2 separate regions of the Homo sapiens genome follow, and region 1 is linked to region 2. The links come from fine-mapping of genetic effects on gene expression. A gene starts in region 2. The other region holds a variant in brackets. All regions are shown on one strand. Distances are between the middles of the regions. Region 1 has its middle 23 kb from the start of RTP1. Region 2 holds the start of RTP1 (receptor transporter protein 1).

Region 1 (5,383 bases), 22 kb after region 2:
GCTGTACTCACTCTTTGTTGAGTCTCCCACAATTACCGTTGTTCCTGGTCCAGACTTCAATCCGGCCTCCCACATTATTCCTGATACCACACCTGACCCCCATGACTGTATCTCTCTGATCCACCTGACATTCACCCCATTTCCCCAAATTTCCTTCTTTCCTGTTCCTCACCCTGATCATGCTTGATTTATTGATGGCAGTTCCACCAGGCCTAATCGCCACAAACCGGCAAAGGCAGGTTATGCTATAGTACAAGCCACTAGCCCGCCTCTTAGAACCTCTCATTTCCTTTCCATCGTGGAAATCTATCCTCAAGGAAATAACTTCTCAGTGTTCCATCTGCTATTCTACTACTCCTCAGGGATTATTCAGGCCCCCTGCCTTCCCTACACATCAAGCTCAAGGATTTGCCCCACCCAGGACTGGCAAATTAGCTTTACTCAACATGCCCTGAGTCAGATAACTAAAATACCTCTTAGTCTAGGCAGACAGTTTCACTGGATAGGTAGATTCCTTTCCTACAGGGTCTGAGAAGGCCACCACGGTCATTTCTTCCCTTCTGTCAGACATAATTCCTCAGTTTAGCCTTCCCACCTCAATACAGTCTGATAACAGACAAGCCTTTATTAGTCAAATCAGCCAAGCAGTTTTTCAGGCTCTTAGTATTCAGTGAAACCTTTATATCCCTTACGGTCCTCCGTCTTCAAGAAAAGTAGAATGGACTAAAGGTCTTTTAAAAACACACCTCACCATGCTCAGCCACCAACTTGAAAAGGACTGGACAATACTTTTACCACTTTCCCTTCTCAGAAGTCAGACCTGTCGTCAGAATGCTACAAGGTACAGCCCATTTGAGCTCCTGTATAGACGCTCCTTTTTATTAGGCCCCAGTCTCATTCCAGACACCAGACCAACTTAGACTGTGCCCCCAAAAAAACTTGTCATCCCTACTATCTTCTGTCTAGTCATACTCCTATTCACCATTCTCAACTACTCATACATGCCCTGCTCTTGTTTACACTGCCGGTTTACACTGTTTTTCCAAGCCATCACAGCTGATATCTCCTGGTGGTATCCCCAAACTGCCACTCTTAACTCTTGAAGTAAATAAATAATCTTTGCTGGCAGGACTATGCTGAATCTCCTTAGGCACTCTCTAATCAGATATCCTGAGTCGTCCCAATTCTTAGACCTTTTATACCTGTTTTTCTCCTTCTGTTATTCCATTTAGTTTCTCAATTAATCCAAAACCATATTCAGGCCATCACCAATCATTCTATACGACAAATGTTTCTTCTAACATCCCCACAATATCACCCCTTACCACAAGACCTCCCTTCAGCTTAATCTCTCCCACTCTAGGTTCCCACGCCACCCCTAATCCCGCTTGAAGCAGCCCTGACAAACATCGCCCATTCTCTCTCCATATCACCCCCCAAAAATTTTCGCCGCCCCAACACTTCAACACTATTTTGTTTTATTTTTCTTATTCATATAAGAAGGCAGGAATGTCAGTCAGGCCTCTGAGCCCAAGCCAAGCCATCGCATCCCCTGTGACTTGCACTTATATGCCCAGATGGCCTGAAGTAACTGAAGAATCACAAAAGAAGTGAATATGCCCTGCCCCACCTTAACTGATGACATTCCACCACAAAAGAAGTGTAAATGGTCGGTCCTTGCCTTAAGTGATGACATTACCTTGTGAAAGTCCTTTTCCTGGCTCATCCTGGCTCAAAAAGCACCCCCCACTGAGCACCTTGCGACCCCCACTCCTGCCCGCCAGAGAACAAGCCCCCTTTGACTGTAATTTTCCTTTACCTACCCAAATCCTATAAAACGGCCCCACCCTTATCTCGCTTCGCTGACTCTCTTTTCAGACTCAGCCCGCCTGCACCCAGGTGAAATAAACAGCCATGTTGCTCATACAAAGCCTGTTTGGTGGTCTCTTCACACAGATGCGCGTGAAAACTATGTTCAGCTGATTTTTGTATTCTTAGTAGAGACAGGGTTTCACCATGTTGGTCAGGCTGGTTTCGAACTCCTGACCTCAGGTGATCCACCCACCTCGGCCTCCCAAAGTGCTGGGATTACAGGCGTGAGCCACCACACTCAGCCATGCCTAGGCTGTTTTTACATCTCATGCTGGGAGGAAACTGACAGACCCTACTGCTGTTTTCCTCCCACCCCAGACAACTGCTTTGTTCAGTGGTTGTGGCGAGTTAGAAACCGGGGATGGCATGGCCTAGAGAGAGGAATAGGGGGAGGGGAGTGTCAAATCTGCTATTTGACATCGTCATGACCAGCCTTGCCATTTTGTTTCACAGGTCAAAGTGAGTGTTATCGCCCGAAAGTTTGTCATTCGAAGCTCCTCCATGTCTCACTTAGTGAGAATTTTTCCAGACATTGGCAAGTGGTCTGTTGCCATCTTTAATTCTCAATGCTGTGGCAAAATGTGTTTTTACGGCCTGGTGTGGTAGCTCATGCCTGTAATCCTAGCACTTTGGGAGGCCAAGGCAGGTGGATTGCCTAAGCTCAGGAGTTCGAGACCAGCCTGGGCAACATGCTGAAACCCCGTCTCTACTAAAATACAAAAAGTTAGCCAGGCGTGGTGGCATGCACCTGTAATCCCAGCTACTCGGGAGGCTGAGGCAGAAGAATTGCTAGAACCCGGGAGGTGGAGGTTGCAGTGAGTCGAGATCAGGCCACTGCACTCCAGCCTGGGTGACAGAGCGAGACTCCATCTCTTAAAAAAAAAAAAAAATGTGCTTTTACGCATTTCGGTGGGAAGTAGAGATGGAATATCAAGGATGGTTAGAATGATGGTACATTCCCATGTTTTAAAAAGAGACGGTTGGCAGCCCGGAGTCTGGACTGAAATGAGGAGAAACAGTAAAGTGGCTTTTTGAAGGCCATAACTGAGGCAGGAGAATGGCTTGAACCCGGCAGGTGGAGGTTGCAGTGAGCCAAGATCGCGCCACTGCACTCCAGCCAAGGCAACAGAGCAAGACTCTGTCAAAAAAAAAAAACAAAAACTTTCACTTTGGAGTGAGGCAGACAAAGCTGACTCCACCACTTAACTGGGCCTGTAACTTTCAAGGAGTTGGTATCCTCTAACGCCTTATTCCCTCTTTTGGCTGCTGGAGGGAGGCAGGTAATTATTGCTATCTCCCAGGGTTCTTATGAGGATAAAGGAGATAAATATATGGAAATTTTACATTTACTCTTAAAACCTTGAGGTGAAACCACAGCAGTGAGCAGGAAAAGAGGGAGCTGCCCTCAGGGCAAATGCTAATATCAACACAACAATCCAGAGCTGGACTTTGAGCAGAGGGAGAGCAGAATCAACTC[A/G]GGTTCCCGGATTATGCCTGACACAAGGAAAGGGATTAAAGGAATTGCAGGTCTGTAGCTGTCCAAGGCTGTTGCAAACACAAGCCCAAATCTTCTCTGGAAGAAAGAATCCTGAATTCAGCAACAAGGTTTTCCACAGACTGAAATAAACTAAATCAAGGATTACAAAACCCTTCTCTCAGGGAATGCATTTCCAGTCAGCTCTCAACGCCATCAGGGACTTGGCCCAGAAGGCTTCTTTCCAGTGAATGAATTCTGTGCACGGCAGGATCTGTCTTCTCCTCGGGCTTTGATCTGGGGCAACCTGACCTCAGTTTCTCCTTAGAGGGCAGCCATGCTTGCTAACATTTTGATGCCCCGGACTATTCTGTTTAGCTAATGCATTGGCTTTGCTAACAATCAGATTTTACTTTCTGTTGCTATGGGTTTTTTTCTTCTTTTTTAGATATTTTGCCTGTGATCTATATAATTTTATGCCAGAAGACTTGGACTCAAGCATTAAGATGTAAGTGGACATCTGGTGTGACTCAGTCTTGCCTTGTAGGTCTGCTTATAATTAGAAAGAGGCATACCTACATTATAGGGATATGGGTGGGCTTCAGTTAGTACACAGGCTACAGCATTTATATTAATTCATACATAACTTATTTCACACCAACAGCCAACTTAAATCTCAGTATTGTATTATCTGTAAACTCTCAGGTGTTTTCATTATGAAGACTTGATGCCCTATGGAAGTCACAGTCCATATAGATCAGTCTCTATGTGGTGTCATGTTCAAGATACACAGTATAAGAGCCAGAAAAGCAATTATAGAAGAATTTTATTAACTTGCTTTTCCAAAAGAAGATGAGAGTGGATCAGACTCACAAGTTGTAGCAACACTTCTCATATTCCTATGTCTCTTCCCCTCTACTTCTTCCCTTCTGTGTCCCCCAGCACCTTTCGTTTGCTGCCTCCCCCTCTCCACCATGTTGTTCACCTTCAGCCTCCCTCGCCTCCACTTTTCTCACCTCCTATCCCTCCAACTTTCTCCCTGGGTCATTCTCCCTGCCATAAAATCCTTCTTGATCCATTCTTACAAAAGTCTGTAGAGACTGGTCTAGCAATGACAAATGTAGGGAGTGAGGGATGAGAAAAGCATGTGGAAGAGTGGGGAAAGGTCCATCCAGCAATTGCATTCACTTTGGTGGAGTGGGGGGAAAAGGGAAATTTGTGGATAATCCCTGATGAATATTAATTTTTATAACAGAGTCTTATGCCTATAAAAGATAGATATTTATATAATTATAAATGTATGTTACTTAGTGCTTCATATTATTATTATAATAAATATTAAAAGTAATTTATGCCCCAATGTTCTTTTTATAAAAAAGTTTAAAGTAGCTTTCAAAGATGCATACAACATAATAATATGTTCTATTTTTAAAACAGTCAAAAATATCTAACAAAATAATACATGCATTTCCCTTTGACCCAGCAATCCTATGTCTAGAAATTTATGCCTAACATATGTTGACAAAAACAGAAAATGATATACACAAATCGCTATTCAGTACTATGTTGTTTGTAGCAGTCGGAATTGGAAACAACCTAAACTGTACGGCATACCTTACCTATGGTAAGATACAAGAGGAATAAAATATGAAACACCACCCAGTAAAGAACTATGGAGCTAAACAAAAGAATGAGGATAATCTCTATAAACCATTATGGAGTGATATCCAGGATAGCCTCTCAACTAAAAAACAAAAAAAGGAAAAGAAAAAACCAAGGGGCAGAACTGTATATAAAGATTGCTACCTTTCCTCGAAGGATGAAAGATACATATTTGACTATATTAAAAATAAATGGAAAGATAAGTTAAAAACTAAGGAATATTATTGTTCACTGGGGAGGAGGGAACAGGGTAGAGGAGACACAGGTAGAACACAGATATTTCTAAATGTGCTTTGTTGTGTTGTGTTGTTTTGGGTCCATGTTATTTTTTACATAATTATAAAACAAAAAAATTGAATTTTTAAAAATTCTGAA
Region 2 (5,383 bases):
CTGGTCCTGCGACTTGGTGGGGCTGGGCGCCCGGGAGAAGGTGTAGGTGGTCGCCTCCTCCTCCAGCAGCTTCTCGCTGGGCTTCCAGTGCACGATGCCCTCCTGGCAGGCCTCGCAGAACTCTCCGCGGTGCCGCCGGTTGTCCTGGCGGCTGGCCACGTGGATGCGGTACTGGCCGCCACGCTCGCCGTAGCACTGCTCGCGCAGGCTGGTGATGAGGTTGTCCACCAGGCCCTCGATGTTCTCCTCCAGCATGCTGGACTCGTCCAGCCGCGCCGTGCCGCACTCATAGCACAGCTGCTTGAAGACGCGCATGCGCACCGAGCCCGCCCGCTGGGCGCGGTCCAGGAACATGTGGAAGAGGATGACCACGTAGGGCGACTGCCAGGTGTGCCAGCACCAGGAGCAGTGGAACCTGCGGAGACGGGAGGAGAGGGAGGAATAGAAGACGGGCGGAGGTGGTGGAAACAGCCCTAGGAATGGCGTGAGGGGACGTGGAGGCTAAGCAGAGCCTGGAGGTGGAGGAAGTGTGTTGCCGGCGCCCTGGGTTCATTAGCTTTCCCCAGGAAGCCACTCAGCCTTGCAAGTGCCCCTAGGACTACAGCAGGTTCCTCAGGATGTCACCGGGCATCCAGCAGTGCTCTACCTCCTCAGTGCTTTCCAGAGGCCTAACTCCCACCACCCCAGCATTGGGCGTCATTCTTATTCCTCATGGGCAAAATGCGCTTGGTGCACTAGGTGAGTCCTTCCTTCTCACACCAGATAAGAAACACATAATCCATCTGCACATTTCTATCTGTTAACACTGACTGTGAACAGGCTAGATCCAAATTAGGAGAAAATGACACCATTACTAGCTATCAACGTCCAGGCCAGTGTCAGAGTTAATGCATCACAAGGCCTGGAGGTGGAGGCAGTCTGTGCCCAGATCCCCAAGGCCTGTAGTCTCCCAGGCCTGACTGGGGCCAGCTGGGGATTACAGGTCCCCAGCCAGGTCTGGGGCAGCCACAAGCCCTCCCCACTCAGCCCCCACAGCCTTCCAGGTCTTCAAGAAGCTCCTGATCCTGCCTGTAAGTGTCCAGCCCTTGACACCCCTCCTGTCAGCCAGTTTAGGAGCTTCACATTTTCATTCTCTTCTTGTTCACACATCTTTTGGGGACTGTTTCCTCTCTCAGACCAGACTACAAAACCTGGATTGAAAAATGTCGTAACTAGAGGGACCTGGAAATCACCTAATTAATGTTTTCTTTTATGCTGAGACAGAGTGAGAGAGGCATCCATGTACACACAGCTAGAGGCAGAACCGGCGCCCAGCACGTAACAGGTGCCCAGTAATGTTTCCTGAATTGAAGTGAATTGGCTGAACCAGGGCAAGCAGGAAGGCCTTGCTTCTGACTTCCAGGCTGCACCACTCAGCCTCCCCATCTTATGTCTCAAAGGTAAGCCCCTACACTCTGGACCCATGAACAAGAGTGCTAGAAATTCATCTCAGATAGTTTTTACATACTAATCACCTAGAACTCTTCTTGAAATCAGATTCTGATTCAGATCTAAAAGGGGCCCAAGATTCTGCTTTCTTAACAAATTCCAGGTGATGCCGATCCTGCTGCTCTGTGGACCACAGGCTAACCTCTCACTGTGCAAAAGGAGAAAGCCAGGTCCAAGAAGAAAATCGAGTTCCTCAACAGCCATGGAGCCAATGATAGAGCCAGTTTCTGGCACATCTCATGTATTCAATATTTTAAGTGAAATTAAGTTGAGTTAAATAGATTTAAACCGGTCCCAGGACCAGAGCACGGACGTCTCGACCCCCAGTGGGCCTCAAACCCTTCTTCTCTGGTTTTAAACTACTTTTTAAGAGACTGTTAAAATAGAAAATATGTAAAATGTCAGTGTGTAGGACTCATACGTATATTCTATGTCTTTATTTTCCAGACGGAAAAATTGTGACTCAGAGAGGAAGAGTAACACAGGTGATCAGTAGAAGAGCTGAAATCCAACTCAAGTGTCGTAGTTCCCAGTTAGGGACTCTTTCTCTGACTTCCAGTCTACGCCAGCCTAATAGTGAGATTGAAGCTAAACACTTGGGTTCTACGTAATCTTCCTCTCCTTGGAAGGTGCCCCAGAGCTAGGGACCTAGAGGCGGCCTGCAGGGATCCACCTTCCTGGGCTACTCACCTGCCTGAAGCATGCAATTCCAGGTACTGCTTCCAACCAGGGCTCAGCACATTGTGCTTGAGGTTGGGGTCTATGATGAGGTCCCAGCTGTCAGCCGGCTTTGCCTCCTCCATCTTCTCATAGAAGACTTTCTTCCACTCATCTGTGGTCACGCTTTTACACATGGTCTCGTCAGTAGTGAGGGAAGGCAATTTCCACCTTAGTGAGAACACGGAGAGTGAGGGTAGGTGCAGGGCAGGGCAGCGCAGTCTCCACGGTCTAAAAATCCTCATCGACAAGACCAGGAGGAAGCAGGACCCAGCTCCCTCCTTTGTCCGCAGTGGAACCTGTTTCCACGGCAACCAGGCAGGTTGCCAGAAGACAGAGCTTGGGGAGGAGGGAGTCTCTGAAGAGGTGTTTCAAGGCCCTGAACTGAGATTGCAGAGGCAGAGTTTGTGGGTCTAAATGATCCAAGACAGAGTGGGGGACCTGACCAGAGATTGAGCTTCAGACCATCTCACCCTGGCCTGGAAAGAGTATGGGGAGGTGAGGACTGGGAACTGGCTCAGTTTCACCTTGCCGTCCCCTGGAGGCATCATCAGCATCTGGCTGCTACGGTAACCATGATGCCTTAGGCAGCCAAGGAGAAATGAGGGATGGGGAGATGTAAATTTGTTAGTAGATGGAGCAATAATAATAAACTCTCTCTCGGCTTCCCCAGCCATCTTGTGACCAGCACTTTGCCATTTTCAAAACACAATTGGAGGTCTCTTAAGTTATGATTACTATTGCTGCAGTACAGATCAGGAGCCTAGGACTCACCTAGCCTATAAATGGCGGAGCCTGTATACAAATTCAAGCTGTTGACCCCAGACCGGTTCATTAATTCATTCATTTCAAACATATCCGAGCATGTGGGTAGGGTTTGCAGACATGTGCCAAGCTCTATGTCAGTGCTTGTAGCTGACTGTGTACTGAATAACTGTGCAATAGGATCCATGCTGCAATGGCCTTGTGCAAGAACAGCCACCTGTGCACAAAGGTAGGAGCATTGCATCAGCCAGGCAGGAGCAGACAAGATTATTTCCAAGCTGATTATAGAAGCGCAGAAGAGGAGCACCACCCACAGGCAAAACAGCCTTTACTATACATGCCTCTGCTGCTATTTTTAATAAATTATTTTTCCTTTTAAAAAATCATATGGGTTTATTCTAGAAAAAATACAAAATATAGATGAAAGAAAAGAGAAGTAAGACTCTTCCATAAAACCCCACCCGAGATGACTACTGTTAACATTACGATATGTACATCCCGCTTACCATTTTTCTGTACATGTACAAGTGTATGTGTGTGTATATACACACACATTCTGTACACCACATACATTCTATATACCACATTGTGACATTTTCAAAAAATAATACGTCATGAATATTTTTCTAGGTCATATTCCGTAGTAGTACATTATGGGCTACCTATATTCTGTTATATGGATAGGCATAATTTATTTAGCCAATCCTGTCTTTTAGGGCATTTTGGTTTTATTTCAGTTTCTCACATTACACTCTTCCCATCTATTTGTATAAACTTGTTGACGAAGCTCATCGCATGCATTAGAAACAACACTTCCTACAATTGGAAAACACGTCTCTTGACTCCACTCTCTCCAAAAGCTTGGTGTGGCTAGCAGAATCTGAGCAGGCTCTTCAAACAGTATGAATTTTGGACAGCCAGCAGATCTTGAAGTTTAGTGATGAAAAAGAGGGACTTAAAATCACCCATCTGATACCAGAAACCATCTTCCAAGTGCTTCTCCTGCCGCTTCATGGATGTTTGATGCCTTGATTTACACTATTTTAACCTCAGTTTATTCATCTTCTCAGTGGGATAATAACAAAACAGTATCTGCTGTGATTAAAAGCAGGGGCTTTAGAATGGCTTGCCTGGTTGTGGTGTTGTTGTTGTTGTTGTTGTTGTTACAGAGTCTCGCTCTGTTGCCCAGGCTGGAGTGCAATGGCACAATCTCGACTCACTGCAACCTCCACCTCCCAAGTTCAAGTGATTCTCTTGCCTCAGCCTCCCAAGTAACAGGGATTACAGGCATGCGTCACCACACCTGGCTGATTTTGTATTTTCCGTAGAGATGGGATTTCACCATGTTGGCCAGGCTGGTCTCAAACTCCTGACCTCAGGTGATCTGCCTACCTTAGCATCCCCAAGTGCTGGGATTACAGGCATGAGTCACCGTGCCTGGCTGCTTTTACAAAAAAAAAAAAATTTCCATATAGACTCATAGGTAGCAATTCTAATGTATATAATCTGTATCTTTTCATCCTAGTAAAAAATACGTGTTAATGTTTTATGTGAATATAATTTTAATTTGCATAGTAACAGCAATCACCATATAGCACTTACTATATAGCAATCACTATACAGCACTTACCTGGTAAGTGCTTAGAAAGCATTGTTCTGGTGCTTTATAAATATTAATTTATTTCATTCAATAACAAACTTGACAGGTAGGTAACAGCAGCAGCAGCTCCATTTTACAGATATGTGAGCTAAAGTCTAGAGGTTAGATAACTTGCACAAGATTTAACAGCTAATAACTAGTTGAACTGGGACTTAAACCTATATGACTGTCTACAAAGCCCCAGCTTTAGCCATTGTGATGCTCAGCGTGGAATCTAGAACATAACATCTGCTAATTAAATGTGTGTTTCTTCATCACTCACGTGGCCGTTACAGACCCCAAGAATTGCAAATGAAGTTTATATCATTTCAGCAAATGGTTCACTGGGGCCCCCCCACACTGAGGCCACATCTCCCCAGAAGAGGGGTGAGTTGTACTTGACCCACCAGGCTCCCTGCTACTGCTGGGGATGCTGCCTCTACTGCCAAACTTAATGAAGCAATGGTGTCCACAGACCCCTGATACTCGGTATAAATATTTTAGAGCTGAGAGAGATATTTAGCTTGAAATCTTACCAAAGAAAATATGGTACAGAAAGTCATCTCTAGGCACAGCAACCCTGTAAAGCCTCAATCATTTGATGCCAGGCATCTTGGCTCAATGGAGAGAGCACTGAACTGGGAGTCAGGAGACACATAGCCCAGCTCTGCTCCTGGCTGACATTGTGACCTTGGGCAAGCCACTAATTTCCCTTGGCCTCAGTTTGTCCATCTGTTCAATGAAGAATTAGGGTAGATGACAAAGGTAAGCTCC

Evidence for each region. PIP is the estimated chance that this variant, and not a neighbour inherited with it, causes the effect. A credible set is the group of variants that fine-mapping cannot tell apart.
Region 1: its variant is the best candidate, but not a certain one, in a credible set for the expression of RTP1 in putamen (GTEx, PIP 0.77).

What each region holds. Positions count from the first base shown.
Region 1 is chr3:187,172,087-187,177,469 of GRCh38, reverse strand. No RefSeq gene overlaps it. Among named protein-coding and RNA genes, the nearest start is that of RTP1, 23 kb to the left of the region's middle. RefSeq lists enhancers at 1-533, 745-1,575, 1,576-2,407. The variant A/G (reference allele first, on the strand shown) is at 3,350.
Region 2 is chr3:187,194,583-187,199,965 of GRCh38, reverse strand. It overlaps RTP1 (receptor transporter protein 1), which reads right to left and starts at 2,480. Exons shown (of 2, transcript NM_153708.3): 1 at 2,179-2,480; 2 at 1-415. The coding sequence starts at 2,450. It overlaps LOC101929106 (a long non-coding RNA gene), which reads left to right. Exons shown (of 5, transcript NR_110052.1): 3 at 1-738; 4 at 1,264-1,439; 5 at 1,936-2,876.